3 separate regions of the Homo sapiens genome follow, and all the other regions are linked to region 2. Evidence: fine-mapped expression QTL. A gene starts in region 2. Each other region holds a variant in brackets. All regions are shown on one strand. Distances are from middle to middle.

What was found.
Region 1: its variant is fine-mapped to the expression of LINC02188 in testis (GTEx, PIP 0.98).
Region 3: its variant is fine-mapped to the expression of LINC02188 in aorta (GTEx, PIP 0.97).

The regions. Positions count from the first base shown.
Region 1 is chr16:86,734,573-86,744,884 of GRCh38, forward strand. LINC02188 (long intergenic non-protein coding RNA 2188) reads left to right here. Exons shown (of 3, transcript NR_135183.1): 2 at 254-337; 3 at 2,838-3,254. Among named protein-coding and RNA genes, the nearest start is that of LINC02188, 18 kb to the left of the region's middle. RefSeq lists an enhancer at 7,715-8,461. The variant C/G (reference allele first, on the strand shown) is at 5,307.
Region 2 is chr16:86,716,836-86,727,147 of GRCh38, forward strand. LINC02188 (long intergenic non-protein coding RNA 2188) reads left to right here and starts at 5,256. Exons shown (of 3, transcript NR_135183.1): 1 at 5,256-5,296. It overlaps LINC02189 (long intergenic non-protein coding RNA 2189), which reads right to left and starts at 5,124. Exons shown (of 2, transcript NR_135181.1): 1 at 4,930-5,124; 2 at 3,849-4,168.
Region 3 is chr16:86,682,352-86,692,663 of GRCh38, forward strand. No RefSeq gene overlaps it. Among named protein-coding and RNA genes, the nearest start is that of LINC02189, 34 kb to the right of the region's middle. The variant C/G (reference allele first, on the strand shown) is at 4,114.

The DNA.
Region 1 (10,312 bases), 18 kb after region 2:
GTTTCCGTGGGAGAGAGAGAGAGCGCACAGGTCACCCACCCCCGGGGCACTGCAAGTGTTAACCGCCCTCCCCCACCCCCACTGGCTGCAGGCCCCAGTCCTGCGGGTGTGAGGAGAGCTCAGACTTTGGAAACTGAATAATGCTGCTCTCGCCTTCCTGCATGGGGGTAGGGAAAGGAAATGCTTTAGTGAGATTGCAAAGCAGGAAAAAAAAAAAAGGTCAATCAGTAACTCTTTTCTCTGTATCCATTAGAGATTGCTGGTGAGACAGCAGCCACTGCTCCCAGGCCCGACAACAGGGGCAGCACCAAAGCTGGTCAGTGTTTCCTCCTTACAGGTAAGGGACGTGGGGAAGAGGAGAGAACTTGACGGCCTTGCTTATTAATTCAGAAAATGTATTAAGGTTGGGTGTGTGGGGGAGTGTGCAGTGAGCAGATAGGGAATCCACAGGCTGTGACCCAGATCCTTGTTTGGGGCAGAGAGACCCGGGCACAGGCACGTAGCACACGGCGTCGGACGGCTCCTGTGCCCGGTTCTGTGCAGAGCCCTGAACAGGACAGTTCTCACAACAGCCCAGCAGCCTCAGTGAATGTCCTGTGGACACCTGAGGGACGCTGAGAGGTAGACCATGGTCCTCAAGGTCACGCAGTTGCTAAGTGAGGGAGTGGAAGTGACTGACTCCCCTGGCCTGACTCAGAACCCACAAACGCGGAAATCCAAACTTCTGAGGCTGTTCCTTCTCTTGGATGTGCATGTATTTCTTCGTTCCTTGAGTAATGATTGCATTTTACTATGGGCTGGAGGCTGAGAGAGGCTCAAGGCCACATGTGGTAACATCACACATGGCTCCAGACTCAACAGATAATATGACAGTCCTATTGCACTTCTAGAAATTCAGGATAAAAAAATAATAATGTGCGTACCCAGGGAGAAAAAATGACAAAGCACCCATCACAAATATTTATGCCCCAAATAACATACCCAAATAACATGCTTTACCATTTTTGTAAGAAGCAAAAATTGGTTAAAAGTACAAAAAGGAATAGCGAGAAACACCACGAAAAGGGATTCTCTAAACTTTTAAACGATCAGGTAAAATGAAATTTGTTTATTAAGTTGATGTCTTGGTCTGTTTTCTGTTGCTATAACAGAACACCTGAGACAGGGTAATTTACAATGGAAAGGAATTTATTTCTTATAGTTCTGGAGACTGGGAGGTCTCCAGAAGGGGCAGCATCTGGTGAGGGCCTTCCTGCTGGTGGGGACTCTCTGCAAGGTCCCATGGGGGTGCAGGAACTTACTTCTTACAGTTCTGGAAGCTGGGAAGTCTCCAGAAGGGGCGGCATCTGGTGAGAGCCTTCCTGTTGGTGGGGACTCTGCAAGGTCTCATGGGGGTGCAGGCATCTCAGAGTGAGGAGGCTGAGCCTGCAAGTCAAGCCCTCCCTTTCTCCCCTTGGAAAGCTGCTCCTTCCCACCCTCACGACCTCATCTAATCCTAATCACATCCCAAAGCTTCCAACTCTCCAATAGCAGAGGCAGATTTCCTATCCTCTTACTGTCACCATGGGGATTAAGTTTCAACAGGAGTTTGGGAGAGGACAAACATTCAAACCTTGGCAGTTGACTTAATGGATACAAACAAAAGTTATATTACAAATGGAAATTCAAGGGTGGTGTCAACACAGATGCCACCTTCTCCCCCTTGTTTTCAGGGACTAGGCTTTATTTCCAACCTTGGCCTTCTCAAGGAGACTAGTTGAAGGCCTGCCATCCTGGAGGGACCTGGCCAGCCCCAGCCCCAGCCCACCCTGACAGCTCTAGAGCTGTCCTTCCGTTAGATGGCCCCCTATACCCTGAAGCCTTAAACGACACCCAACACCATGATCCTACTGGATAGTGCCCTAAAATGCTCCTGGGTCATTTCATGCCTGGAAGGCAGGAGGAAGCTAAAATCCCACCGTTTTCTCCACTTGTTGGACTGTCTGCCCCATGAGGGAACAAAAGCTCCATCGACGAGCGTGGATCCAGAAGCCCAGGCAATCAGGCTGGAGCCTTCCTTACTTCTGCTGTCTGCAGTGACCACTCTGGATTTGGGATCCAGCCTCCCTGAGACTGTAAACATCTGGGTGAGAGCCAGCCGTGGCTGAGCCCATAATTACTGGCTGCAGCCTCCCTACGGCGGCACAGAGGAGGTGGGTGGAGAATGGTTACCAGGGCCTGTGTGATATGAGTCCCTAAAAACACTCTCAATCAATGGGCAGATTGAGCCTTCTCAAACCATGTCACATACCAGCATCTGTGACATGTGGTCCAAATCAAGTTGGCTTAGCCTTCCATCTGGAAGGATATCATTAGAGGTAGTTGAAACCAGGAAACTTCACACCAAAGACATGAGTCCACAGTTTGAGACAATGTGGTATTCACTTCCAGCTCCATACAGTCCTTGGGTAAATGGTGGCTTAATGTTTGGCCTCAGAAGACTTTGCTCTTTTACTAGAGGCTAAATTTGTCCCCGAGTGCCCATGGCCCTGTGGAAAACTTGGGCTAAGACTTCAGATATGACTTAACTTTTGGTCAAGATACAGACATGCATTCATGCAAGTAAACAGACGCATGCCTGTGTGTCTGCCGCATGCAGGGGGTGGTGGGGAGAGGAGAAGGAAACCCACAGTTTCTCTGTTGTTTCAGGGACCTGTTTCAGGCCTAAAGTTTCCTAAAACAGTCATGCACGTGTTTGTTCTCCATTCTCACTTCACTCTGAGCACTGTGAGTCCAGCTTCACGGCAAAGCCCTGTGTGCGGTGAGCAGTGGTTCACTCCTGGCTTTTGTACATGCAGGTCTGAAGGTGCTGCAGAGGAGGGTGCTTCCCAGAGATCACCCCTGTGACAGACAGATCGATTGAAGGACCCCTGAATGGCTGAATTGAGAAGAACAAGCATATTAGGAGGCCATACAATGGGAGCCTCTCAGGCAGACAGACAAAGCCGTGGAAACTGCAGACTTATTTGTATGTTCTGGTAAACACCTTTGCTTCATTTTCCCCGTCTCCGCCTGGACTGAGGGTCACCTCACCTCTCCTGGTGTCCAGAGCCTCCTTCAGGACAGATGTTGCAAACCTGAGTTCTCACAAACAGCGGGGTCCAGCCCTTCTCAACACTGGAAAGCCCTTGAGCCATCTTTGATTTGTGTGTTTTGATCTAATTGCACTACTGCTTGCAATGCTTGTTTTTAGCGGTGAGTGCTGGTTTAATTTGTTTCTTTCTGGTCTCCCAGCCCCACTCCAGAATTTTGGCTCCTGGAGAGGAGGGGCCCTGAACTGGCATTTTCAGTGAAGCATCCCAGTGCCTTGAATCCAGTAAGCAGCCAGGTGTCTGTTGGCTTCATGGTTTAACAACCTACCATTTGAAGAATCGCAGAGATGAATTAAAAAGAGCCCCGGAGAGGCTCCCCGATCCAGTTGCACTTCCTGCTTAAGCAAAGTAAAGAAAAACAGGAATGAAAACATAACCCAATGGGTTAGTTCCATGCTGGCCATTGATGAGGTTGCAGCCACCATCAGAAGAAGGCCAAACGGTTAGAAAGACACGGCGGTGAGGAAGATGAGCCTCATTATCGACTGTCACCTGCAGCCCTGCACAGGTGCTCAGAATCTAACACTTGATGGCTGGTTGAGATTCCCGGAGTCCTAATTAGGAATGAGGAGTCAGGCTGGCAGGACCCAGGGAAAGCAAAAAGAGAAGGCAGAGAAGCTCCAAGTCTGCCTGTCTTCGTGATCCAGAACACGTAGTCCTGCTGCACAAGTAACTCACAATCTTCCTGTGTCCAGCTGTCATTAGACCCTTGGCTGATAGAAAAATGCAAGTTAGCACACTGCAGCCTCGGTGTCGTCAGTACTGCACGTCACTCTCTCCAGCACACCGCGGCCTCGGCGTCATCAGCACTGCACGTCGCTCTCTCCAGCACACCGCGGCCTCGGCGTCGTCAGCACTGCACGTCGCTCTCTCCAGCACACCGCGGCCTCAGCGTCATCAGCACTGCACGTCGCTCTCTCCAGCACACCGCGGCCTCGGCGTCGTCAGCACTGCACGTCGCTCTCTCCAGCACACCGCGGCCTCGGTGTTGTCAGTACTGCACGTCGCTCTCTCCAGCACACAGCACAAGCACCATCCTATCAAGTCCCCAGCAAGCCTTTGTCTCCTTGCAGTCAGCTCCTCTCTTGCTGGCCTGCCTGTTGCCTCCTTGCTGTGTATTTTCCTACTTTCTCTAATTTGCCTTTTTTTTTTATTTTTGAGATGAAATTTTGCCTCAGCCTCCCAAGTAGCTGGGACTACAGGTGCGTTTCACCACGTCCATCTAATTTTTGTATTTTTCGTAGAGACGGGTTTTCACCATGTTGGCCAGGATGGCCTTACCTCAAGGACCTCCTGATCCGCCTGCCTCGGCCTCCCAAAGTGTTGGGATTACAGGCATGAGCCACTGCACCTGGCCTAAATCTGCCTTTCTTAACCTACAATTGTCTTTACCCTGAGCCGCTGGCCCCAGATAGTCGCTGCTCACCCATGACAATATTTCACCACTGAGATCATTTATCCTCAAAAAAATGAGTAGAATGGCCACGGAATTGTGTGCAAAGAATGAAGGAGCAAAACAGTCTTGGAGTCTTAGGAGCAAAACATCTGCATTACTAATATCCTCCCAAGTCCACCAAGCCTCAGCTAGGAACGGTTCCCCACTTGTGAAGTGTCTGATAAGTTCTAGTTTCCTTCCTTCCTTTCTTCCTTCCTTCCTTCCTCTCTCTCTTCTTTCTTTCTCTTTCTCTCTTTCTTTTCTTTCTCTTTACCTTTCTTTCTTTCCTTTCTTTCTATCTTTCTTCTCTCAATCTTTCTTTCTCTCTCTCTCTTTTTGACAGTCTCACTCTGTTGTTCAGGCTGGAGTACAGTGGCACAATCTCAGCTCACTGCAACCTCTGCGTCCCAGGTTCAAGCAATTCTCCTGCCTCAGCCTCCTGAGTAGCTGGGATTACAGGCTCTCGCCACTACATCCAGCTGATTTTTGTATTTTTAGTAGAGGTGGGGGTTTCCCCAAGTTGGCCAGGCTGGTCTCGAACTCCTGACCTCAGGTAATCCGCCCACCTCAGCCTCCCAAAGTGCTTGGATTACAAGCGTGGACCACCACACCTGGCTCATTGATTCATTTATTCATCTGATAGGTATTTATTGAACATAAAGTGCCACAGACCGGGTGGCTTAAATGACAGAGATTTATTTTCTAACAGTTCTGGAAGCCGGAAGTCTGAGATCAAGGTG[C/G]CGGCAGGACTGCTTCCTCCAAGCCCTCTCTTTTTGGCTTGTAAGAGCTGTCTTCTCTCTGTGTCCTCACAAGGTCGCCCTCCGTGCGTGTCTGTGTCCTCATCTCCTCTTATTACGGAGACACCAGTCCTACTGGATTAGCTCCCATGCTGGTGACCTCATTCTACCTTAATTACCTCCATAAATGCCCTATCTCCAAACACAGTCACATTATGACATCCTGGGGGTTGGACTTCGACGTGTGAGTTTGGGGGGATGCAACCCAGCCCACAATAAACAGCAAATACGATTAGAGCTTCTCACAGATACAAAGCCATTGTCGTGCAGCTCATGCCCTCCTCGGGGGAAGAAGCCAGTAAGTCACAGAGATCAGTAACGCAGGTGGGGACGAAGGTGTAGAGGAGAGCCAGGCACGGAGGCCTGTTGGAGTGCGGGTGCTTTGCAATTTTAGAAGCCGAGGTCTAGGGGAGGCCGGACTTGAAAGACGACGTCTGGGCCAAGTGCAGAGAAAGGTGGCGGATGAGCTGGAAGGAAGCCTGGGAGAAGGCACTTTGGGCGTAGGGTTTTGAGACACAGCTGTGTTTTGCCCGTGGCACGGGAGCTCTGGGGCCGGCATGGCCCGTGTGGCCTAGGTGGAGGTGGGAGGGGAGGCGGGAGAAGGGGTGCCCTCGAGATCTCGGGAGGCACTGGCCACGGAGAGCCCTCGGGCTGTTACTTCTACTATTGCCTTTTACCAGTTAAAAGCATCCTCCCATGCAAAGGCTTGAGAAGGATACAGTGGACTCTGGGGACTCGGTGGGGAAGGGTGGGAAGAGGGTGAGGGATAAATGACTACGAATTAGGTGCAGTGGATACTGCTCGGGTGATGGGTGCGCCAAAATCTCACAAATCACCACCAAAGAACTTACGTAATCAAACCCCACCTGTTCCCCAAAAACCAATGGAAATGAATTTTAAAAACAAAAACAAAAAGCATCTCCTCAACATTGTGTTCGAAGAGAGGCAGCTGCCAGGACCTCGCTGTTCCTCACCCTCGGAAGCCGTGCCTCTTCTCTGGGCCCTTGGTCTGGCATCCCCGGCCAGTGCAGCCCCTTCAACCGTGGGGTAGGTGGCGGGCGGAGGGGCCAGCCTGGCTGCCTGGCATCCCCATGGTTCCTGTAATAAATAACAAGCCTAACTGACAAATTTGCTGTTTTCTTATACGACTGCCACGCACACTACAAAGTGTGAGGCAAACCGCAAGTCATCGGCATCACAGCAAAACAAAAACACACACACAACAGAAGAAACCACGCTGGTGAGGTCAGCAGGGTAAGTTCTGCCTTGTAGGGTTTGCTGGGAAAAAAAAAAAAAAAAAACGTGGAGAAGGAGACGTGGGGGCGGGGAGGGCTGAGGTCAGAGCCAATATTGAAAGAAATCTATTTGTGGCTGTGGGAGGGATGGGGACGGCGGCAGGAATTTAAAGAGGCAGAAGTTCATTTCCTGTGATTTATGGGACTTTGCTGACTTTCACGCTCCGGTTCTAGGGACAGGGAGACCCTCCCTGCGGGAGCCGCTGCTAGAGGGAAAGGCAGCGTTGGATCGGATGCCGGCCCCAGCCTGGGAGACGTGCTTCCTCTGCAGCCTGTGATCAGGAGCGAAGTGTAGAGACCAGAATCGTTCAGAGGCAGGGCTGGTCCCTGTTGATTTATGACTCAGGCAAACAGTCCATTCATCCGTCAGCGGCTCCACTTCTATCCTCAGCTTACTGGAGGCAGAAGAATGTCCCCTGGAAGTGGTCTGAGCTGCTTCCTGTGGTGGCCCCATTCCTCCGGGTGGGGGATCCTATTTTTAGAGGGCCACCATTGCCATGAAGGTCCAGCCGGCTCATCGGCACCGTGCGGCATGGTGGGACGCAGTACTGAAATTCGAGGGGGAGCTAGGCATTCATAGCTGTTTCTTACAAACAAGAAAGGCACTGATTCTGAGGCTCCATTTCCTCCTCTGTAGGTGGAAGATAGAGGAGGCTATACAGGGAGGCTCAGCTGTGCCTGACACACAACAGAGATTCTCCAGGAACAGGACATGAATGAATACAAAATCAAATAGGTGATTTCCCTCTTCCTCCAGCAGACAAACCCAGAATAGCAAAGATCACTTCCATGCGCGTCCGTGTGAGGAGACCACACAACAGGCTTTGTGTGAGCAATAAAGCTGTTTATTTCACCTGGGTGCAGGTGGGCTGAGTCCGAAAAGAGTCAGCGAAGGGAGATAAGGGTGGGGCCGTTTTATAGGATTTGGGTAGGTAAAGGAAAATTACAAAGGGGGTTTGTTCTCTGGCGGGCAGGAGTCGGGGTCGCAAGATGCTCAGTGGGGGTGCTTTTGGAGCAAGGATGAGCCAGGAAAAGGACTTTCCCAAGGTAATGTCATCAGTTAAGGCAAGGACCGGCCATTTACACTTCTTTTGTGGTGGAATGTCATCAGTTAAGGTGGGGCAGGGCATATTCACTTCTTTTGTGATTCTTTAGTTACTTCAGGCCATCTGGGCGTATATATACGTGCAGGTCACAGGGGATGCGATGGCTTGGCTTGGGCTCAGAGGCCTGACATTCCTGCCTTCTTAATAAGACAAATAAAACAAAATAGTGTTGAAGTGTTGGGGCGGTGAAAATTTTTGGGGGGTGGTATGGAGAGAGAACGGGCGATGTTTCTCAGGGCTGCTTCAAGCAGGATTAGGGGCGGCGTGGGAACCTAGAGTGGGAGAGATTAAGCTGAAGGGAGGTCTTGTGGTAAGGGGTGATACTGTGGGGATGTTAGAAGAAACATTTGTCGTATAGAATGATTGGTGATGGCCTGGATACGGTTTTGGATGAATTGAGAAACTAAATGGAATAAGAGAAGGAGAAAAACAGGTATAAAAGGTCTAAGAATTGGGATGTCTCAGGACATCTGATTAGAGAGCGCCTAAGGAGATTCAGCATAGTCCTGCCAGCAAAGATTATTTATTTACTTCAAGAGTTAAGAGTGGCAGTTTGGGGATAGCACCAGGAGATATCAGCTGTGATGGCTTGAAGAAACAGTGTAAACCGGCAGTGTAAACAAGAGCAGGGCATGTATGAGTAGTTGAGAACGGTGAATAGGAGTATGGCTAGACAGAAGATAGTAGGGATGACAAGTTTTTTTGGGGCACAGTCTAAGTTGGTCTGGTGTCTGGAATGAGACTGGGGCCTAATAAAAAGGAGCGTCTATACAGGAGCTTAAATGGGCGGTACCCTGTAGCATTCCGAGGACAGGCCTGAATTCTGAGAAGGGAAAGTGGTAAAAGTATTGTCCAGTCCTTTTTAAGTTGGTGGCTGAGCTTGGTGAGGTGTGTTTTTAAAAGACCTTTAGTCCATTCTACTTTTCTTGAAGACGGAGGACCGTAAGGGATATAAAGGTTTCACTGAATACTAAGAGCCTGAAAAACTGCTTGGCTGATTTGACTAATAAAGGCTCATCTGTTGTCAGACTGTATTGAGGTGGGAAGGCTAAACTGAGGAATTATGTCTGACAGAATGGAAGAAATGACTGCGATGGCCTTCTCAGACCCTGTAGGAAAGGCCTCTACCTATCCAGTGAAAGCATCTCCCTAGACTAAGAGGTATTTTAGTTATCTGACTCAGGGCATGTTGAGTAAAGCTAATTTGCCAGTCCTGGGTGGGGCAAATCCTCGAGCTTGATGTGTAGGGAAGGGAGGGGGCCTGAATAATCCCTGAGGAGTAATAGAATAGCAGATGGAACACTGAGAAGTTATTTTCTTGAGGATAGATTTCCACGATGGAAAAGAAATGAGAGGTTCTAAGAGGCTGGCTAGTGGCTTGTACTATAGCATAACCTGCCTTTGCTGGTGTGTGGCGATTAGGCCTGGTGGAACCGCCATCAGTAAATCAAGCGTGATCAGGGTGAGGAACAGGAAGGAAGGAAATTTGGGGAAATGGGGTGAATGTCAGGTGGATCAGAGAGATACAGTCATGGGGGTCAGGTGTGGTATCAGGAATAATGTGGGAGGCCGGATTGAAGTCTGGGCCAGGAACAACGGTAATTGTGGGAGACTCAACAAAGAGTGAGTACAGCTGAAGGAGCCGGGGAGCAGAAAGTATACGTGTCAGGTATGAGGAAAAGAATAGATTTTGGAAGTTATGAGAACTGTAGAGAGTGAGTTGAGCATAGTTTGTGATTTTGAGGGCCTCTAAAAGTATTAAAGCAGCGGCAGCCGCTGCACGCAGACATGAGGGCTAGGCTAAAACAGTAAGGTCAAGTTGTTCGGACAGAAAGGCTACAGGGTGTGGTCCTGGCTCTTGTGTAAGAATTCTGACTGTGCTAACCATGCCTAGGAAGGAAAGGAGTTTGTTGTTTTGTAGAAGGTGCTTGGGTTTGAGAGATCAGTCGGACACGATTGGCAGGGAGAGCACGTGTGTTTTTATGAGAATTATGCCGAGATAGGTAACAGTTGAGGAAGACATTTGGGCTCGATTGAAGTAATGGGGGCTGTCCGTGAAGCTTTGCGGCAGTACAGCCTAGGTAATTTGCTGAGCTTGATGGGTGTCAGGGTCAGTCCAAGTGAAAGCGAAGAGAGGCTGGGATGAAGGGTGCAAAGGAATAGTAAAGAAAGCATGTTTGAGATCCAGAACAGAATAATGGGTTGTAGAGGCAGGTATTGAGGATAGGAGAGTATATGGGTTTGGCCCCACGGGGTGGAGAGGCAAAACAATTTGGTTGATAAGGCGCAGATCCTGAACTAATCTGTAAGACTTGTCCGGTTTTTGGACAGGTAAAATGGGGGAATTGTATGGAGCGTTTATAGGTTTTAGAAGGCCATGCTGTAGCAGGCGAGTGAGAACAGGCTTTAATCCTTTCAAAGCATGCTGTGGGATGGGATATTGGCATTGAGCGGGGTAAAGGTGATTAGGTTTTAATGAGATGGTAAGGGGTGCATGATTGGTCACCAAGGAGGGAGTAGAGGTATCTTATACTTGTGGGTTAAGGTG
Region 2 (10,312 bases):
GAAGCTTCCTTCCCGGGCTCTGTTACAACATAGGAGGCAGAGCTTAAAGCTCCTTCTAGACTGGCAGGAACCAGCTCTCACCTCCGACAGGGGTGAGGCCAGAGGCGTGGGAAAGCCAGATGGGGTGGCGGATGCCACGGTGCCATGGCCTCCTTCAACCCTCAGGTGTGCAAGGAGGCAGGTGACCTGGGATGTTCTGCAAAACAGGTAGGTTTTCATGCCATTGATTTGATTCTCCTGAAACTTAGCCAGTGAATTTTTAAAAAGGGATAAGCCTCAAAGACAATGTAAACAAAAAATATGTCCTGGGCTTTACATCGGTAAAATGGTCTTTTCCTGCCTCGTGTTTTAAATACAGGCTCAAAACAGCAGGATGAGGAAGGGTGACTGTTAACAGGTACACAGATTCTTTCTGAATTGATAAAAATGTTCCAAAATGGACTGTGTTGAGGGTTGTCCAGTTCTGTGAATATACTAAAACCCACTGAATTGTCCACTTTAAATGGGTGAATTGTGTGGTACTTGAGTTATATCTCGATAAAGCTTCTTTTAAAAGTAGATTTTAAAAAGTATTTCATTATTTTTAGACACTTTCCCCAAACACGTATTACCAACACTGGGAGAGACGTAGAGAAACAGACTGTTTTCAAACCATTTTTGAGTTATTTGAGTTTCAGGTGTGTTTTGTGGTTTTCCTCATTGGCAAAAGTTTACTGTGAGTGAATCGAAGCTTCTTGTCGTGTCGAGGGGACCATACTGAGCCTTGGAGGCAACTAAGCAAAAAGAAGGAAGATGGCTCAAAATAAGGGCCTAAGTTATTCCCTGAGTGCATTCAAAGGAGAAAGATACTAAGGGAGGTCGAGCTAAGCCAGGAGGGCTTCATGGAGGAGGGAACTGAGCTGGAACCTCCAGATTTAATAAAAGTAACAAAAAGTTCTAAGAAATAATAGCAGCGGCCCTCCTTCACCAGGCACTGGCCCTTCCCCAGGCCCCCTGCCTCCTGCACTTCACAGTTCTCCGGGAGACACAAGTGCCATTTGAGGAGGGGGATGTCGCCGCCTGCCTTGCCTGGGCGATCCCCTGCCAGAAGCCAGAGAGCAGGGGCCACTGAGAGCCCACGTGGGCAGCTCCCAGGGTACTGAGGAAGAAGAGAGGCAGTGATGAGGAGATCCAAGCCTGAGACATCCAGCACCTCATGGGGGACTTAGGGTGGGCTGGAGAATAACAGGCGCAAAGGCGTGGGAGGGACAGAGGGGTTTCATCAAAGACAGCAGGCCCTGGCCTGAGAGGTGGGGCTGACTGAGGATGGCCACGAGGTACCCAGCTGTCCTAAGCTCGTGAATGATAGAGGGGTAGGTGGTGTCACCTTTCTCATTAGAATGTGCTGGGCTGTTGTGTAAGTTCTCTTCATTCACTCACTCTAGGTCCTCACTACCCAAGGCGTGGTCCTCAGACATCACCCGGGAGCTGGTTATAAATGGAGAGTCTCAGGCCCCGCCCTGGAGGCCCTGGTTCAGAACCTGCGTTTCAGCAAGAGCTCGAGTGATTCAGGCAGGTCACTGCACTGCTGTAAGTCACCCCCCTGGTTTGGGGATGTGGGAGTGGCTGCTGGCCAGGAACAATCAGTTTCAGGTTTAAACGTGGGATTTTCCACCCTTGCGGCAGGGTAACATTGTATCAAGAACAGGAAATACTGGCTGCTTCTCGCCTTCCTTCGTCCCAGGACGAATGCCCCTCATCAATTGCTGCCTGCTTCCCTGCAGACCCCGGGGATGGCCCCATTATGCCTCTCAACACAAGATGCCTGTGCCTACATTGTGTCCATTTGAGCTGGCAGATGTATATATAAGATTGCTCACTTATAACTTTTGGCAGAAATATAAAACTCAGGGATTATCAGAAAACAAATCCTATAACTGTCTTACATACAATCACTTATACCCATGCAATGCCACGGCCAGTAAGGAAAGAGGGAACTCAGCGTGGAGGTCAGGGCACAGGGAAATGACACGACACCTTTGAAGGGTAAGCCCCGAAAGGTCAGTCTGTGTGCTGGGGGTCCCGTGGACACATCTGTCCCTGGGCATCCCTCCAAAGATGAAGGCTGAATATGTCCCTTGAGTTTGGCGTCGAAGGATGGGCCCAAGAGGCCAGAGGACACGCAGCACAGGGAGACAGAAAGTCCTTCCAGACAGAGAACAAAGCCACCAGCTCTTGTGCAGAAAGGTGAACTGCGACCTCAGTAGGCGGTGCTCATCTGTCACAGGTGTTTGTTTGAGTTTGACAATGTGGGGAAAACAGTAGTTCTGTTCTTTCTTTGGTTCCCAAGCATATCTGAACAATTATTCTTATTTTTTAAGCATGTAAGAGCTAAGTTTCACACAGAAATGACAATACCGATAAAGCCATGTGACTTTGACGATTGTGGAAATGGGTCAGTGGGTGAATTTAAGTTCTTCTTCCTTATTTAAAACACTACACTTGAGTTGGATGCTTCAGTCCCCTAGTGTACTTTGTTGAGAGAGGCAAAGATCCAGTTCTGAATCTGTGCTCGGATGGCTCTGGGCAAATTGGAGGACGCGATTGAAAGATGCAGTTGTTCCAATTCATGGTGGCTCGATTGAACAATGACGGACCTGGACCTGGACCGTGCAGGTACCTACAGGCCCTGTGAGTGGGCCTTGGGAAAATGGAACAAAGCAATCGCATGCTGCCTCTGATCGGATTGCTCTCAGTGCCAAGTGCAGTATAGACAGAAGCTAGCAGTGGGTGCAGGGCAGCGTGGCGTGCTGGGAAGGAGCTACCATGCCGTCTTGAGATGTTGCTGGCAGATCCTCAGTAGCTTCAGACCCTGCTGGCTTGAGATGATGCCTGCAAAGCCTCAGTACCTTCAGACCCTGGCACTGACACACCGGAGAGTCACTGGGTGGGGGGCGGGCTCTGCGGCTCCCCATGGTTCGGGTTTTCCTGGCTCAAATGGAGATCACGGTTGTGTTTCAGGTAGGGCCTGGCACTGAAAATGCTTGGTATGGGTGGAGGTTGTTCTTTTTACCCACACATGATCTTTAAGATTGTGCTAGCGCATCTCACAAGACATTTGCTAAAACTGAATTGTATAACTTGCTTTGTGTTCAATGAGGAGGGAGCAGCCACACTGGAGAAAGATTTCAGCCATGACTACTGTGTATCACACATGAAATCCTGGCTTAAGGCTGTAGGACTCCATTACGCTGTTCCATGCACACACTACGTCTTTGCAGGTATCATGTCATTAGGTGTGATAACAGCTCAGCATTTTTACATTCTCCAAGCTATCATCATGTGCAAGGCATATTAGCTCCTCCTAGCCCAAAGCCAATAGAAATGTCAGTATGGCCCAAGGGGTGCCTGAGAATTTAAACCATGACACTTGAAGCAGGTCTAGGAGAACCACCCTGGAGGAATGGGCTGCAGGTGCAGCCTCTCCTGGATTTACAGGCTCATTCCCCAGTGGGCATCATCGTGGCTCCCACCTGGGTTCATCTCTTGAATCAGTTCTCTCTTCTGCATGGGTATCTGGGTATCCCTTGCAGAGTGCACACCTTTTTTATTTTTTGACATGATTTCAGATGTGCAGAAGAGGAGCACAAAAATCTCAAGATACCCTTCACCCAGAGTCCCCAAAATTAATATTTACCATATTTGTTGCATCTCTCTCTCTCTCTCTCTCTCACACACACACACACACACACACAGAGAGGAAGTTGCAGACAAGATGTGCCTTTACTATTAAATACTGCTGTGTGCATTTCCTGAAAACAAAGGGATTCTCTTCTGTAACCACAATGCAATTAACAAAACCAAGGATGTGGCATTGACACAATTCTATTAGCTACAGACCTCATTCACGTTTTTTCAATTGTCCTAAGACTGTTTGAGCCAAAAGAATATCCAAGATCATGCCTGGCATTCTGTTGTCGCATCTCTTTAGTCTCCATTAAGCAGAAAATCTTGAGTCTTTGTCTTTCATGACATTGATGTTTATTTTGTAGAATGCGTCACCATTTCAGGTTGTCCGAATTGTCCTTGTGGTCAGATTCACGTCAAGACTTGGGGCAACAACACCAGGATGTAATGTCCTCATCACATATATTGATCACGGGGCCTGTGGTGTTGATTTAGCCCGCTGCTGGTGGTAATACTTGGGTTATAGTTTTTGTACTGTAAAGTCACTATTTCACCTTATGTAGTAAGTTACAAGCATCTTACTAGGAGATCTTTAGTTAATTTTCCAAAGATTTAACGTGGAGCGAGGAACTCAATCAATGTTGAGCTCCTCTGAGAATCTAGCCCAGCAAATCCCAGTAGAGTGCAGACCCGGGCTGTGGGGAAGGCACAGGAGAAAACCTTTGAGGGGCCTTCAGGCCGGAAGGAACTTTAGCTACTCACCAGGTCTGCCCCCTTTTTGGCAGAAAGAGAAACTGGGATCTACAGGAGGGGCGTGCCTAGGGTACAAGGCAGAGAAGGGCACAGATGGCCAACTTCACCCTCTTGTGCCCTGGGATGATATAGGTTCCTCACATCACAGTAAGAGAGGACTTGCACCCTTCTGCTCACCAAGGGAACAAATGCAAACTAGAGAACTTGTGGGCATCTTAGACAGGGCTTTCATCTTTTTCTTTTCCTCACCCTCCTGATCATCCTCTGGTTCCTATTATTAAGAAAAAAAAAAAACCTGTCTGTCTATCCAACTGTCTTGCTATCTCTATCTGTGTATCCTTCTCCATAGCCAACCCTTTTTTATTTCTACTATGTATATATTTCTATACATCTGCGTCTATATCCACATTGCAATCTCTCTCTTTCTCTTGGTTTTCTTACCTTTCAATGTTAATTGCTAAATGGGAGTAGAGTGAACAACAATAAGAGCAAAAATATAATTTCCTTTACCTTTGCAATAACATTCATAAGGTATTACTGGGAAAACATTAAAAATGGGACCCTTGTTTGAAAGTAGCAGGCAGGAAACACCAAGAAGCTAGAGAAATTCTCTTCAGAAGCCCCCTCTGGCCCACTGAGGGTCACCTTGCTAGAGGTCATCCCTGTCCCTACAGTGGCATCTTGTATAGTGTAGGGCACTGGCTGGGTGCCAATCCCGAGTTGAGTGTTGTCCGATGCAGACACCCTTGGCTGATGACCTCAGACTTGCCTCGGAACCCTGGCTTTATGACCCAACTGTGTGCTATGGTCCAAATGTGTGTGTCTCCCTCAAATTTGAATATTGAAATTCTCACCTACAATGTGATGCTATCAAAAGGTGAGGTCTTCGGGAGGTGAGTGGTTTGTGAGGTAGAACCCTCATGCATGGGAATAGTGCCCTTATGAAAGAGCCCCAAGCCCGGGCACGGTGGCTCACACCTGTAATCCCAGCACTTTGGGAAGCCAATGTGGGCGGATCACCTGAGGTCAGGAGTTTTAGACCAGTCTGACCAACATGATGAAACCCCATCTCTACTAAAAATCCAGAAATGAGCCGGGCATGGTGGCGGGCGCCTGTAATCCCAGCTACTTGGGAGGCGGAGGCAGGAAAATCGCTTGAACCCGGGAGGCAGAGATTGCAGTGAGTGGAGACCATGCCATTGCACTCCAACCAGGGCAATAAGACTGAAACCCCATCTCAAAAAATTAAATAAATAAAAATAAAATAATAAAAAACGCCCCAGAGAGGCCCCTTGCCCCTTCCAGCATATATGGACTCTCGAGAAGGTGCCATCTATGAGTCAGGAAGTGACCTTCACCAGACACTGAAGTGGCCAGGGCCTTGATCTTGGACACCCCAGCCTCCAGAACCGTCAGAGATAAATCTCTGTTGTGCATGGGCTGCCCAGTGGATGATATTTTGTTACAGCAGCCCAGGTAGACAAAGACACCAAGTTTTCTTGTCATGAGATCTGAATGAATAATTCGCTGTGTGTGGTTTGACACTGCAGTGGCTTTTCTGACCCTCCACCTGCCACAATCTCCTTCCTGGATTAAACTCCTTCTCCTGTACATGCCGAGATGTTTCTGTTCCCCGGTTGTGTCTTGACCAACAGTCTTCACGAAGTCTTTCTTTTCAAGCTTACTCTGTCATGATTTTGGTGTCTGGTCATGCCCGGAAATGGAATAGAAAGACCTAGGATTCTCCCTTCACCCTAAGGGAAATCCTTGCTTCGCTGAAAATGGGTGAAGCTGTGGGCTGAAAAAATATGTGTTCCTTCTTTATCTGGCTTCTCTTCACTCAGCTTCTCTGTTCAGTCCCTGCATTATTCATTTTTGGTGCACTTCCAATGATGTCTTATTTCACAATCAGCCGTAATACTGATCATAGAAACTTTTGTATGTGCTGCTTTTTGTGCAATAAATCTCTATTTCAAGCAGTACTCCAGTGACTAGCTAACAGGCTATCTGTTTCACAGCTATGTAGGATAATTGAGGCCTACTATTACTTTGAGGTTTAATTTCTGAACCTAATTGTGTGTGTGCATGCGTGCAGGTGCGTGTGTGTGTGTGTGTGTGTGTGTGTGTGTTCGGGGGAGTCTGTGCACCCATGTGTGTGAACCCAGAATCATACAGGAGACAGGTGAATTGGTTGGCGTCTTTGAGTGGTGGGCTTGAAGGCACACAGCCTTCCTGGTTGACCTTAGACCGGTAAATTCAGGCCTGTTAAATTTCAGGTAAGGTCACTGCCATTTAAGGAGATCTGTTTTGCTTGAATATTCTGACTGTCAGTCCGCAGACATAGGGAGTGTGTGAGTGTGAGTGTGTACCAAGATGAGGAGGATAATCAGGCTCCGGCTCCGTTTTTCTGACACTTTTATGGCTGCCTTTCTTCTGTGCCTGGGCTTCGTTCTCATGCTCTTTCCCTCGTTGTTGCGGGATGGTGGCAGCATCAGCAGCTGCAGAAACTCTTGTTCATTTCCTAGCTCCGAGGAGCGTCATTTCTCCAACTTGGAATAAAAGCCCATCCTCTACCTGATTGGGCCACTCAGATCAAGGGCTTAACACTAGCAACAGTTGCTAAGGCACTGCTAGAAACCGATTAGCTGAAGCCTGGGTGTCTGAACCAATCATTGCCAAGGGGGCGGGACTTGCCCCATCCCTGGAACTATGAATGTCTCAGCCCCTTGAGATCACCTGGGCGTGGAAGAAAGTTGAAAAAAGAAATCAGAATTCGCTTAGGATGTAGGAGGTAGTGTGGATGCTGGGACAGCGACCAGTGCTGTCTACTGTAATTCCCAGTTTGGTGATGAGCAGCGTGAGGCTCAGGAGGATTAAATTTGCCTAAAGTTGCAGCTGGCCAGTCAAACATTGGAAACCAGATGTATTTTGGCTCTAAAGTCTTGTGGGTTTTCTTTGAACCCACAACTACTCTCTATAGATTGGGGACGCTGTGCCAAGCAGCTTTGTAGACTACCAATTACTCAGCCAGCCTGGGAATCGCTGCAGCATTATTGACAATAGCCAAAAGGTGGAAGCAACCCACGTGTCCATCAGTGAATGAATGAAGAAAGAAAATGGTGCATCCAAGTAATGGAGGATTATTCAGCTTTAACAAGGAATGAAGGGTGGGCACCTGCTACAACATGGATGAAGCTTGGGGACATTCTGCAAAAGAGACAGTCACCAAAGACAAACACTGTGTGATTCCACTTTGATAAAGCACCTAGAGTAGGCAGAATCATAGAGACGGAAAGTAGAAGGCACCGGACGCAGCGGCTCACGCCTGTAATCCCAGCCCTTTGGGAGGCCGAGGCAGGTGGATCTCCTGTGGTCAGAAGTTTGAGACCAGCCAGGCCAACATGATGAAACCTCGTCTCTATTAAAAATACAAAAATTAGCTGGGCGTGGTGGCATGCGCCAGTCATCCCAGTTACTCAGGAGGCTGAGACAGGAGAACTGTTTGAACCCAGGAGGCAGAGGTTGCAGTGAGCCAAGATCGTGCCATTGCACTCCAGCCTGGGCAACAAGAGTAAAACTTCATCTCAAAAAAAAAAAAAAAAAAAAAAGAAAAACAAAAAGAAAAAGATAGTAGAAGGGTGATTGCCAGGGACTTATGGGGTGGAGATGGGGAGTTATAATTTAGTGGGGACAGCGTTTCAGCTTAGGAAGATGAAAAAGTTCTGGAGGTGGATGGTGGTGATGGTTGTACAATAGTATGAATACAGTCAACACCACAGAACTACACGCTTGAAAGTGGTTATTGTGGTAAATTTTGTTACGTATATTTTACTACAATATAAAAAAAAAACAATTTTTTAAAAAGTTGTGCTCCAGAGAAAGTGGGCATTTTAACTTCTGCGTGGAGGGGTTTGGCTACAAGGTTCAAAACATCTGTCATGACTCTGGAGCCTCCGAAGCCTCCTAACTTCACTGGCCAGTGATGTCCGCTGCCTCTTCCTCTCTTGAATGTCATCTGGAAAAGTGAGCGGTGATATGTGGAAACGCTTCTCAATGCTCTTCCTGACAGCAATAGTTGGCCTGACACTAGAATTCTTCTCCACTGTACACTGACCCCCGTTGTGTGTCTGTTACCACCACGTTACTCGCCTACATTTTTAGCAATGTGTGACCTTGCACGTTTCCTGCCACCCTGCGCTCCTGACATGAGTAGTCTTGCATCTCTCTCCCCAGCCAGACAGCATGCATGGGCCAGAGTCATGTGCTTGGGGAAAAGGTGGGTTGTATCGACTCCACAACCAGTCAGAGTGCAGTGGGCCCATGTTTTGTAAAACATATGTTTGGCAAATGACTCCCTGTGGGTTGCAGAAATCCAGATGGGGGAAGTTTTCTAAGTGTGATGTCAGAATGTTACATCTGCTGATCCCACGGGTGCATGGGACCAATAAGAAGACGTGAGTTGGTTTGTCCGAGAAATTGCACGGCGTGGAGATCTGGGGGGCACATTCGAATCTGGAAAACAAAGGCCATAATGTGCACAGCCCTCTTTGGGCTTGCGTATTGTTAGAGCTAGGAGAAGTCTTAACATTGCCTAAAAGAGCTCCCAATTTTATGCACGAGGAAACTGAGGCATGGGGTGGTGGGTAAGGTGAGTTGCTCAAGGCTGTCTAAGGCTGGAACTTGAACCTGGGGCTCTGTAGTCTCAGCACAGCACCCTCAGCCCCATCACGCTGGACTAAGGCAGAGATTAAGGTTCTGGGTGTAACGTCAGACTGCCTGGAGGGCTAAGGCTCTGTTCCATCTGCTGAAAAGCTGTGCCACCCTGAGCCTCAGTTTCCTCATCTGAAAGCAGGGATTACAACAGGGCTTGTAGGTAGGGGTGTGTGTGCTGGGGGTGCTAAGTGATAGTGAAGATGATGAGTGTGAACAGGTGATGGACAGCAGCATGTGCCCAACACCGTGCTCAGCATTTCATGTCCAAATTCTCACTATGCTCACTCAGCCTCCATGCAGCCCCACAACATGGGTACCACTATCTTATCCTCTCCCATTTAATAATGAGGTGGCCAAGGCTACTTATGAAAAGAAACGAGGCGGTGCCTGTTGCATACAAAGATCCCAAACCCTAAACCTCTTTTACACATAGCTGGGAAGAAATGCATTTACTTTCCCTGGCCTTGGGCCAGTGGGTTGTTTAGAAACCTTCAGGGGAGCAGGAAGATGCAGCCCACAGCACGGAGATGGCCTTCCCGGGTCCTTGAGAAACAGGTATTTCATGCTGTGTTGGCACACAAGAGCCGGCCAACAATCCCTGTGCTTGTCTGCCTGGACTGTTGGGTAATTTTACAAATTGGCTTTTACTGGCAGGGGAGGTGGGCAGATGTAGGTAGTGGAATATTCCAGTAGGTCACAGGTTCAGATCCAGCCTGGTGGTTGGTGACTTCTGGGGTCATCTGCCCTCTGAGAAGCTGTTTGTCTATACTGATTGGGAACCTGGATCAATGCATTCAGCGAAGCCTGTTAACCTACTTGATTCCAGGCCTGTGCTACCTGCTGAAGACACAGTGGTGAACAAGACTGATAGAAATCATGTATTGATGAAAGTTTGAATCTAGTAAAAAAGAGAGATAATCATCCAAGCTTTAACGAAGACTGAGGGTGCCCAAGTTACCCCTCCTCCTGTTTAGTTTCTCATGGTTGACAAGTTAATAAATAAGCAAATTTAAAAAATACATATGTATATCTCAAGATGAGGATGGAAGCCTCATTCATGAGTGGGGTTATTGACGCATCCAACTTAAAGCCTCTGGGAAAGACAGTGTTCTGGGATAGCCCATGCTTCCCTTGTCTTCTCCCTGTCTCTGCCAGAATTGAAGGTGGCTGGACCCTCATC
Region 3 (10,312 bases), 34 kb before region 2:
ATGAGGTCATCCTGGATTGACAGTGGGCCCTAAGTTCAGTGCCAAGTATCCTTATGACAGTCAGAGAAGATGACGCAGACACGGGACAGAGCAGGCCGTGGGGAGACAGAGGCAGAGGCTGGAGTGACACAGCTACCAGCCAAAGAGCACCAAGGTTGGCTGGAGCCCCCAGCAGCGGGACAGAGGCGCAGAACATATGACCACAGGAGCACCTGGAAAGGACCAAACCCAGCAACAGTTGAATTTGGACTTTTAGCCTCCAGAACCATGAGAAAGTAAGACTCTGCTGGACTGTGGCACGCACCCGGAACACCCATCCAGCCGCCCTGAAGGATGCAGGCCTCTCCGCCTTTGGTTCTCCTGTGCCTCTTCAGGTATGAGGGGTTCCAGCACCAGGCTGGCCCTGGCAGCCGGGAGCCAGGTCAGTGCCTTCCAAACATCCCTGCCCTCCACCACATGCAGGGGCCTTCCCAAAGGGAGAGGCTGCATTGCTCAAGTCTCCAGCAGGTCCTGGGCACGTGTATGTCCCTTCCTCCTACCCATGCTCATCCCAGGAGAGCCATGGCTCAACTATTTGACAAAAACGTATAGCACATCCGTGGGGTGCCAGGCCCCACTGCAGGGCAGAGGACAGTGAACACGACCAAGTTCCTTTCCTTGAGTGTGTTATGTGGGAGGGTGAGAGAGAGGGAACAATCAATGAATGAAGCAAAGAGAGGGAGGAGGAGGGAAGGAAGAAAAGAAGGAAGGAGGGGAGAAGGAAAAGAAGGAAGGAGGGAAACAAGGGAGGGAGAGAAGAAAGGAAGGAAGGGAGGGAGGGAGGGAAGGGAGGAAGGAAGGAAGGAGAGAGGGAGGAAAGAGGGAAGGAAGGAGGGAGGGAGAGAGGAAGGAGGGAGGGAGGGAGGAAGACCGTTCCATGCAGTGATAAGCAAAAGGAAGTGAAACCAAGTCTGTGGAAAGGTGGAGTGTGCTGGGAGGCTGTGGAGGAAGACTGTCGGGTGGGGCCGTGCACTGTGCCCACGTGGAGGCGGGCACCCCAGGGGACCCTGCGCTTGCTATTTGACTGGATTCTCACGGCAGCTCTCAGAAATCTGCACCATGACTCCGATTTGACTGATGGAGACCCAGATACCCAGAGAGATTAAGCAGCTCCGGCCAGGCCATGGCTTACATTCCAGCTCCCTCTCACTGGGTGACAACTGGCTCCCTCTGTCCCCCACGTGGTAAGAAAATCCACAGCCTTCTTTGATTTTGTTCATAAGTCTTGGGGTTGACTGGACTCAGCCAGCACTTCTCCCTCAGGGTCCTCAGGCCAGGGCAGTGAGACGTGCCAGGCTGGGGCATCTCTCGGGTTCTTCCCTCACAAGGCTGGAGCCCAGCTGGGAAGACCCAAAATGGCCGGTGTTGCAGCTGCTGGAGGTTCTCTCTCCATCTTCCTCTCCCCACCTGTCTCCACCTCTCCCTCTTCCTCCCTCTCTCCACCTCTCCATCTGCCTCTCCCTACCTGTCTCTTCCTCCCTCCACATCTCTCTTTGCCTCTCTCTTCGTCTTTCTGTGTCTCCCTCCATTTCTCTCTTGTCCCTCTCTCTATGTCTCTCTCTCCATCTCTCTGTCTCTCTCTTCATCTCTCCCTGCCTCGTTCTCTCTCTGTGTGTTTCTGTCTCTCCCTCCACATCTCTCTGTTTCTCTCTCCATCTTTCTGTGTCTCCCTCCATTTCTCTCTTGTCCCTCTCTCTATCTTTCTTTGTCTCTCTCTCCATCTCTGTCTGCCTCTTTCTCTCTCTGTGTTTGTCTCTCTCTCTACATCTCTCTGTGTGTCTCTCTCCATTTCTCTTTCTCTCTCTCCATCTTTTTTTCTCTCTCCGTCCATCTTTCTTGTCCCTTTCTCTATCTCTTTTTGTCTCTCTCTCCATTTCTGTTTCTCTCTCTGTGTCTCTGTTTCTCTCTCTCTCTTTCTCTCTCTCTCTCTATATGTATATATATGTGTGTATATATATATGTGTGTATATATATGTGTATATATATGTGTGTGTGTATGTGTGTGTGTGTGTGTATATATGTGTGTGTGTGTGTGTGTGTGTGTGTGTGTGTATATATATATATATGCCATAGGGTGATTGGATGTCTATTGTGGCAGTGGGAGGCTCCCAGAGTGAGTGTCCCAAGAAACTTGGGCAGAGGTGGCCTGGCCTCTCCTAGCCCACCTGGGAGGTCACACAGCAGCATGTCTGTCATGCCCCACTCAGGATGCAGCTGCAGAGCCTCGCCCTGTACAGTGGGGTAGGGGTGGGGCTGCCCCTCTCCATGGCAGGAAGGTCACAGAAGGTGCTATGGGTTTTACATTCTCCCCAGCTCGGCCCCACCCCATATCATGCTCATCAGCCCTCCCCTTCCCACAGCTTCTCACACCCCCCACTCTCCCCGTCTCCAGCAGGGCTTCACGTCCACCTGCTTCCCTGAGAGGCAGTGAGATGCTCTTTCATGGAGCGGGCCAGCTGGCATGGCCTCAGAGGCCTCCTCACCACAACTGGGCCTGCTGGACCCCCGCCCCCTGGGCCGGTCCTCCCCAGCTATGAGAATACAACTGCACACCCAGGAAGGCCAGTTTGGGCAAATTCCCGGGATCCATATTCTTCCTGAGACATGGCTGCAGAGTTGTCAAACTTCCTGAAGAAATATTTGTTATAACTAAAGTGTATTTTGGGTGTTGGAAATATAAACTTTGGTGCTTGACCAGGTGTGACCATAGACTAGTCCATAATGGGATGAAATGCACAGTCCGTGGATTTCCACCACAGGTTTATATTTTTAACATTTACAACCAATAAATGTTGGCTCCAACATCAACAGAAGAAAAGGAAGACCATAAATCCTTCCTTTCCAGTAGTAAAGGGAGTGGAATCCCAGACCATAACCCTTGCTATCATATTTTAATAGCCACTGCTAATGGAATGCTTACCACATCCAGATTCTGCACTGAGGTTTTGCATTCATCATCAAAGTGGGTCTTTCAACAACCCCATTATTATTCCCATTTTGGAGAGAAGAAAACTGAGGCTTAGAGATTGTTAGTCACTTGCTCCAGGTCACATGTTAGCAAAAACCAGAGCCGGCTCAAGAATATCCCTGTCACTAAATGGACATCCCATATTATCACATCTCTGTCACTGAAGCTTTTCTGTAAGGGGCAGAATATTTCAAAAGCTACACATCCGTTTTCTCTGCAGAATGTGATCAGAATGCTGCACCTTCGAAAAAATTATTTGTGACATGAAACTGTGGTACTTGGCTGAGAGTTTTGAGAAAAACAAGAGTTGGTAGGTGGATTTATTTTGAAGGTTAGCCTTCGACAAGGTTCAAGTGAGCTAGTTCTCTTAGAGAATTCCTTAGACAAGAGGAAAGGAGGAAGAGCGAGTGTCCTTTGTTTCCAGGGAGATTCTGACCAAGAACACACTAGACAAAACCAATGGGCCAGGTGTAGTGGCTCACTCCTGTAATCCCAGCACTTTGGGAGGCTGAGGCAGGCGGATCGCTTGAGGTCAGGAGTTTGAGACCAGCCTGGCCAACGTGGTGAAAGCCTGTCTCTACTAAAAATACAAAAACAAACAAACAAACAAAATAGCCGGGCGTGGTGGCAGGCACCTGTAATTCCAGCTACTTGGGAGGCTGGGGAAGGAGAATCGCTTGAACCGGGGAAGCAGAGATTGCAGTGAGCTAAGGTCGCACCATTGCACTCCAGCCTAGGCAACAGAGTGAGACTCCCTCTCAAAAAACAAAACAAAAACAAACAAACAAACAAAAAAACAATGAACCCAAAAGTTGCTTCTTTGAGAAGATCAATACAATGGATAAACATCTAACCAGGTTGATCAGGAAAGGGGAGAAAAGGCACAAATTACCAATTATTAGGGAAGAGTTTTTTTTTCTTTTCTTTTCTTTTTTTTTTTAACGGAGTCTCGCTCCATCGCCAGGGTGGAGTGCAGTGGCGTGATCTCGACTCACTGCAACCTCCGCCTCCCAGGTTCAAGCGATTCTCTGACCTCAGCCTCCCAAGTAGCTGGGACTAAAGGCACATGCCACCATGCCCAGCTAATTTTTTGTATTTTTAGTAGA[C/G]ACAGGGTTTCACCATGTTGGCCAGGATGGTCTCGATCTCCTGACCTTGTGATCCGCCCGCCTCGGCCTCCCTAAGTGCTGGGATTACAGGCATGAGCCACCAAGCCTGGCCAGGGATGAGATTCTTTTTTTTTTTTTTTTTTTTTTTTTGAGACGGAGTCTCGCTCTGTCGCCCAGGCTGGAGTGCAGTGGCGGGATCTCGGCTCACTGCAAGCTCCGCCTCCCGGGTTCATGCCATTCTCCTGCCTCAGCCTCCCAAGTAGCTGGGACTACAGGCGCCCGCCACTACGCCCGGCTAATTTTTTGTATTTTTAGTAGAGACGGGGTTTCACCGTTTTAGCCGGGATGGTCTCGATCTCCTGACCTCGTGATCCGCCCGCCTCGGCCTCCCAAAGTGCTGGGATTACAGGCGTGAGCCACCGCGCCCGGCCCGAGATTCTTGACATCACTGCAGATCTTACAGACAACTTGGGGAAAGTGGACAAATTGCTTGAAAGGCACAAACTACTAAGTTAACTCATGAAAAAATGGATAACCTGAACAGTCCTATCTATGAAAGTAACTATATTTGTAGTTAGAAACCTTCTCACCAAGAACACTCCAGGTCCATATGGCTTCACTGATGAATTCTACCCAGGCTTTAAGGAGACTAACGATTCCAAGTTTACATAAACTTTTCCAGAAAACCAAAAAGGGGAGAGCACTTTCTCATTCATTTAATGAGGTCAGCATTATCCTAATACCAAAGTCAGACAAAGCAATTACAAGACAAGAAAACCACAGGGCCATATTCCTCATGAACAAAGAAGCAACAATTCTAAATAAAATTTTAGGAAATCAAACCCAACAAAGGATAATGCATCACATGTAAGTGAGTCCCAAGAATGCAAGATTAGTTTATTTGAAAATCAATCAATGTAATTCATCATCGTGACAAACTAAACAAGAAAATCATGGCTGGGTGCGGTGGCTCATGCCTGAATCCCAGCACTTTGGGAGGCCGAGGCAGGCGGATCACTTGAGGTCAGGAGTTTGAGACCAGCCTGGCCAACATGGTGAAACCCTGTCTCTACTAAAAATACAAAAATTAGCTGGGCGTGGTGGCACATGCCTGTAATCCCAGCTACTTGGGAGGCTGAGCAGAAGAATCACTTGAACTAGGGAGGCGGAGGTTGCAGTGAACCGAGATTGTTCCACTGCACTCCAGCCTGGGCGACAGAGTGACACTCCATGAAAGAAAAAAGAAAGAAAGAAAAGAAAAGAAAAGAAAAGAAAAAAGAAAAGAGAGAAAAAAGAAAATCATGATAATCTAATAGTGGCAGGAAAAGCATCTGACAAAACCCAACATTCATTCCTAATTTAAAAAAGTCTGAGAAAACAAGGAATAGAAGGACATCCCCCTCATTTTGAAAAACACAGTCACAACTCACCCAGTATGAAATAGATAATTTCAATAGTCCTATAAGTACTTTAAAAATTAAATTAATAATTTTTAAATTACCACAAAAGAAATCTTGTTCATATGGCTTTACTGGAGAATTCTACCAAATGTTTAAACAAGAATTAACACCAATTTTATACAGTCTCTTCTGAGAAATACATGAGATGGGGATACTTTGCAGTTCATTCTGTGAAGCTAGTATTACACTAATACAGAAACCAGACAAAGGCAATAAAATTTTAGTCTAATATTCCCCGTGAATGTAGAGGCAAACATTCTTGAGTATATATCGGCAAACAGAATTCAGTAATATATAAGAAGAATTATACACCATAACCAAGTAGGATTAATTCCAAGGATGCAGGCATGTTTCAATACTCAAAAATTATGAGTATTGAACATAATCCACCCTACTGACAAGTTAAAGAAGAAAAATCACATATTCACATTAATCAATGCAAAAAACAGCATTGATAAAATTCAACATCCGTTTGTGATTTTAAAAAAAGCTCAGAAAAATAGAAATAGGGGAGAAACTTCCTGACTTGACAAAATGCAACTACAAAAAGCTACAGATAACATTATACTTAGTTGTGGAAGACTAAATGTTTTCCCCCTAAGATTGAGAACACAGCAAGAATGTCCACTCTCCCTACTCTTATTCAGTGTAGTGCTATAGGTTCTAGCCAGAATAATAAACACCAAAATTAAAAATACAATTCCACTTATAATTGCTCAAACGATGTAGTAAACGTAACAAAACACATACCTTGTATGCTGAAAAATATACAATGTTGATGAAGGAAATCAAAGAAGGTCTTAATAAATGGAGTGATATACTGCATTCAGGGATTGAAAGACTCAACATAGTAAAGAGGTCAATTCTCTTCAAATTGATATACAAGTTTAATGCAATTAATATCAAAATAACGGCAGAATTTTTTAACAGATGGACAGGGTTATTCTAAAATTTATTTGAAAATGGAAAGAAACTAGGTAAGTTCAAATAATTTTGAAAAAAAGAAGAATAAAGTGAGAAGAATCAGTCTCCCCAATGTCAAGGGTGACTACATAGCTACAGTAATCAAGAAGGCAGTGATAATGGTGGAAGGATAGACATATGTCAGTGGAACAGAATAGAGACTCAGAAATAGAACCACACCAATATGCCCAACTGATTTTTAACAAAGATGCAATTCAATGGAGAAAAAAAGAGACTTTTCAACAAACAGTGCCAGAGAATAGCACATAGGCAATAAAATCAACATCTATGTAAGGTTCACATCTTATACAAAAATCAATTCAAAATGTATAATGAACTTAAATGTAAAATACAAAACTATGAAACTTTCGGGAAAAATGTCTTAGGAATATAGGCCTAGGCAAAAAGGTCTTAAGACTTAACACCAATAGCACAATCCACAAAAGAAAAAGATTGATAAATTCAACTGCATCAGAATTAAAAACTTTTGCTCTTGAAAGATACTTTTCTAAGGATAAAAAGAAGATCCACAGAGTGAGAGAAAATATTTGCAAACAACATATCTGAAAAAGGACTAGTATCCAGAATATATAAAGAACTGTCAAGACTCAGTTAAACCAAACGATCCAATTAGGCAAAAGACATGACGAAACATTTCACTGAAGAGATTACACCGATGGTAAATAAGCACATGAAAAAACACTGAACGTCACCAGCCTTCACAGAATTGAAGAGAGTTAGGGCCTTGCTCCAGATTAGGCTTTGGCTCAAGGCAATGTTGTAGTTAGTTTGATCTTTTATTCAGACCGTAAACCTTTCACCATATCAGCAGTAAGGCTATTTCACTTTTTTATCATTCATGTGTTCACTGGAGTAGCACTTTTAATTTCCTTCAAAAGCTTTTACTTTGCATGCACAACTTGACCAACTGTTTGGTGCAAGAGGCCTAGTTTCAGCGTACCTTGGCTTCTGACATGGCTTCCTCACTAAGCTTAATCGTTTCAGCTCTCGGTGTAAAGTGAGACCTGTGACTCTTCCTTTCACTCAAACACTTACAGGCCACTGTAGGATGATTCCTTGACCTAATTTCAATATTATTATGTTGCAGTGAATAGAGAGGCCCAAGGATAGGGAGAGAGATGGGGGAAGAGCCAGTGATACAGTTAGAACACACAAGCCATTTATTGATTAAGTTCACTGTCTTATAGGGGCATGGTTCATGGTGCCCCAGAACAATTACAATAGTGACGAAGCTCACCGATCGCAGATCACCATAACAGAAGTAATCATAATGAAACGGTTTGAAATACTGTGAGAATTACTCAAATGTGACAGAGCCATGACATAAGCACGTACTGTTGGGAAAATGGCGCTGATAGACTTGCTCCATGCAAGGTCTCCACAAACCCTCAGTTTGTAAGAAACACAGACAGTAAAGCACTTAAATGCATAATAAAACAAGGGAGGCCTGCACACTCCAGTAAAGCTCTTTATTTTTATTTATTTATTTATTTAATTAATTTATTTATTTATTATTTATTTATTTATTTATTTATTTTAAGATGGAGTCTCGCTCTCTTGCCCAGGCTGGAGTGCAGTGACGCGATCTCGACTCACTGCAAGCTCCACCTCCTGGATTCATGCCATTCTCCTGCCTCAGCCTCCCTAGTAGCTGGGACTACAGGCGCCCGCCACTGCGCCAGGCTAATTTTTTGTATTTTTAGTAGACACAGGGTTTCACTGTGTTAGCCAGGATGGTCTCAATCTCCTGACCTCGTGATCCGCCCACCTCGGCCTCCCAAAGGAGTAAAGCTCTTTAAAAAAGAAAGAGTCTGGACAAGTAAATGTTGCCCTTTTAGAGTTTTTTGCTTTTCTAACAGAAAGAGACGTTAGAGACCGTCTAACCTCGTTGTTTTCCAACTGTGTTTCTTGGAACCTGAGGTGGACTATGATTTGCAAAGATGTCCGCAATCATACCCTGATGCCTGTAGGCTCTCCCACAACATGGTCTTGCCTCACCTGTTACTGAGAGGGAGATCTGTGTTCCCTGTGGTTGAATTTGGTGGCCCTTTGACCATCGATAGAATGTGGTGAAAGTAAGGCTGTGTGACTCCTGTGACTAGGTCACATGGGCCACATGTCTTCCACCTGGTTCTCTGGAAACTCTTGCTCTGGAGGAAGCCAGCCACCAAGTAAGAAATCTGACAACCCTGAGACCGCCATGCTGGAGAGGCCACATGTGGATGCATTGGCTGACAGCCCCTGCATCAACACCAGCCACGTGAGCAAGACACCTTGGACACACATGCGGCCTGTCAAGCCTCCAGCTGCCTGCAGTCCAAGCCAACACCTGGCTGCACTCTCTTGAGAGACTCCAAGTGATGATTGCCCAGTCAATCCCTCTCTAAATCCCAGCCCACCAAATCGTAAACAAAGTAAAAGGGCAATCGTTTGATAGCACTGATTTCTGGGGTAATTGGTTACGTAGCAATAGTAACCAAACTAGACCATGCCAGGGATCCCTGGAAGGCAGGGAGAGGGCAGGGTGAGAATCTTCATGGTGGGGGTTCTGGTAGCCTCCCTCCCTCCCTCCCTACTTGCTCAGGTGAGAGGAATTCGATTTGTTGGAGGAAAGTTCCCCTGGTCTCACCTAGCCCCTTCATTTTGGAGATCAGGATACAGAGGCAAAGCAGGGAAGTAATGAGCTGAGGTTTACAAGGCTAGGACGTGAACATGCCATTTCTCACCCTAGAATCTGGCAACTCCAAGTCCAGGGCTCCAATCTGAACATATCAGCTGGCCATTGGGAAGTTCCCAAGTCAATTCTGGGCTTTCTTAGTGCTCCCACTGTAATCTCAATAACACAGATGTTTTTTCCAATTCAAGTTGTGAATCTTAAAGCAAATCTGTCAATTAGAAGAGAGTCATCAGGTTCTGTAGTTAAGGTCTTCCAGTGCTAATTCAAGCAATCTGCTTTCCATCTAGCAGAAGCTACACCCCACATGTGTGTCCTGTGTGATTGTAACTTTGTTTTTAAAGCACTACCTGGGGAAGCATTTCTTATAAAAATTGTCGAAACAACGTAACACTCTCACCCACATGTATTTCCTTTCAGTTTCAACCCATCCAGTCCTGGCAACTCCTATAAGCATCTGCTGTGTTACTTTTTTCCTTCTTCTCCTTTAATGCCAGGGACCTCGTGCTGGGGACCTCGGTAGACCAGGAAGCCACAGTTGGGAATGCATTCAGAGACCATTAGTTCAGGAAGCACAGTGAAATCCAAAGAAACCATGAACCAGTGAGTTGGGAAACACTCTATGAAAGGCCTTTTCAGGCAGTTTCTTTCAGGAGGAGTTTGTTTTTGGATTAAAGGAGTTTATTCAGGTATTCACAAATACCCAGGCTCTCGGCAGCAGCTGGAACGTGGAAAGCCCTCAGTCATAATCAATGGCTGTAGAGCAGACTGGCATGTTCTGCTTGAGCAACACAAGGATGAAAGGGGCATAATTAGGGGACACGCCTTCAGAGGAGATGAAAGGCCCAAGACATCCTCAAAAACGGAGGCAAAATATACCCTGAAGTCACTAGTTTCTTTATTTTGGAAGTAGCAGTTCCAATAAAAGCCTAGGTGTCAAAGGCATTGGGATGCAGCCAAGCCTTGGACGCGGTTGCTTTCTTTCTTTCTCGCCCCTGCCGCTCTTTTCTCGCTTGGGGAAGAAAACTGATGGAAATGTCACTCCTGTATTTCCTGCACTCCTAGCAAATGGTGTAAATGC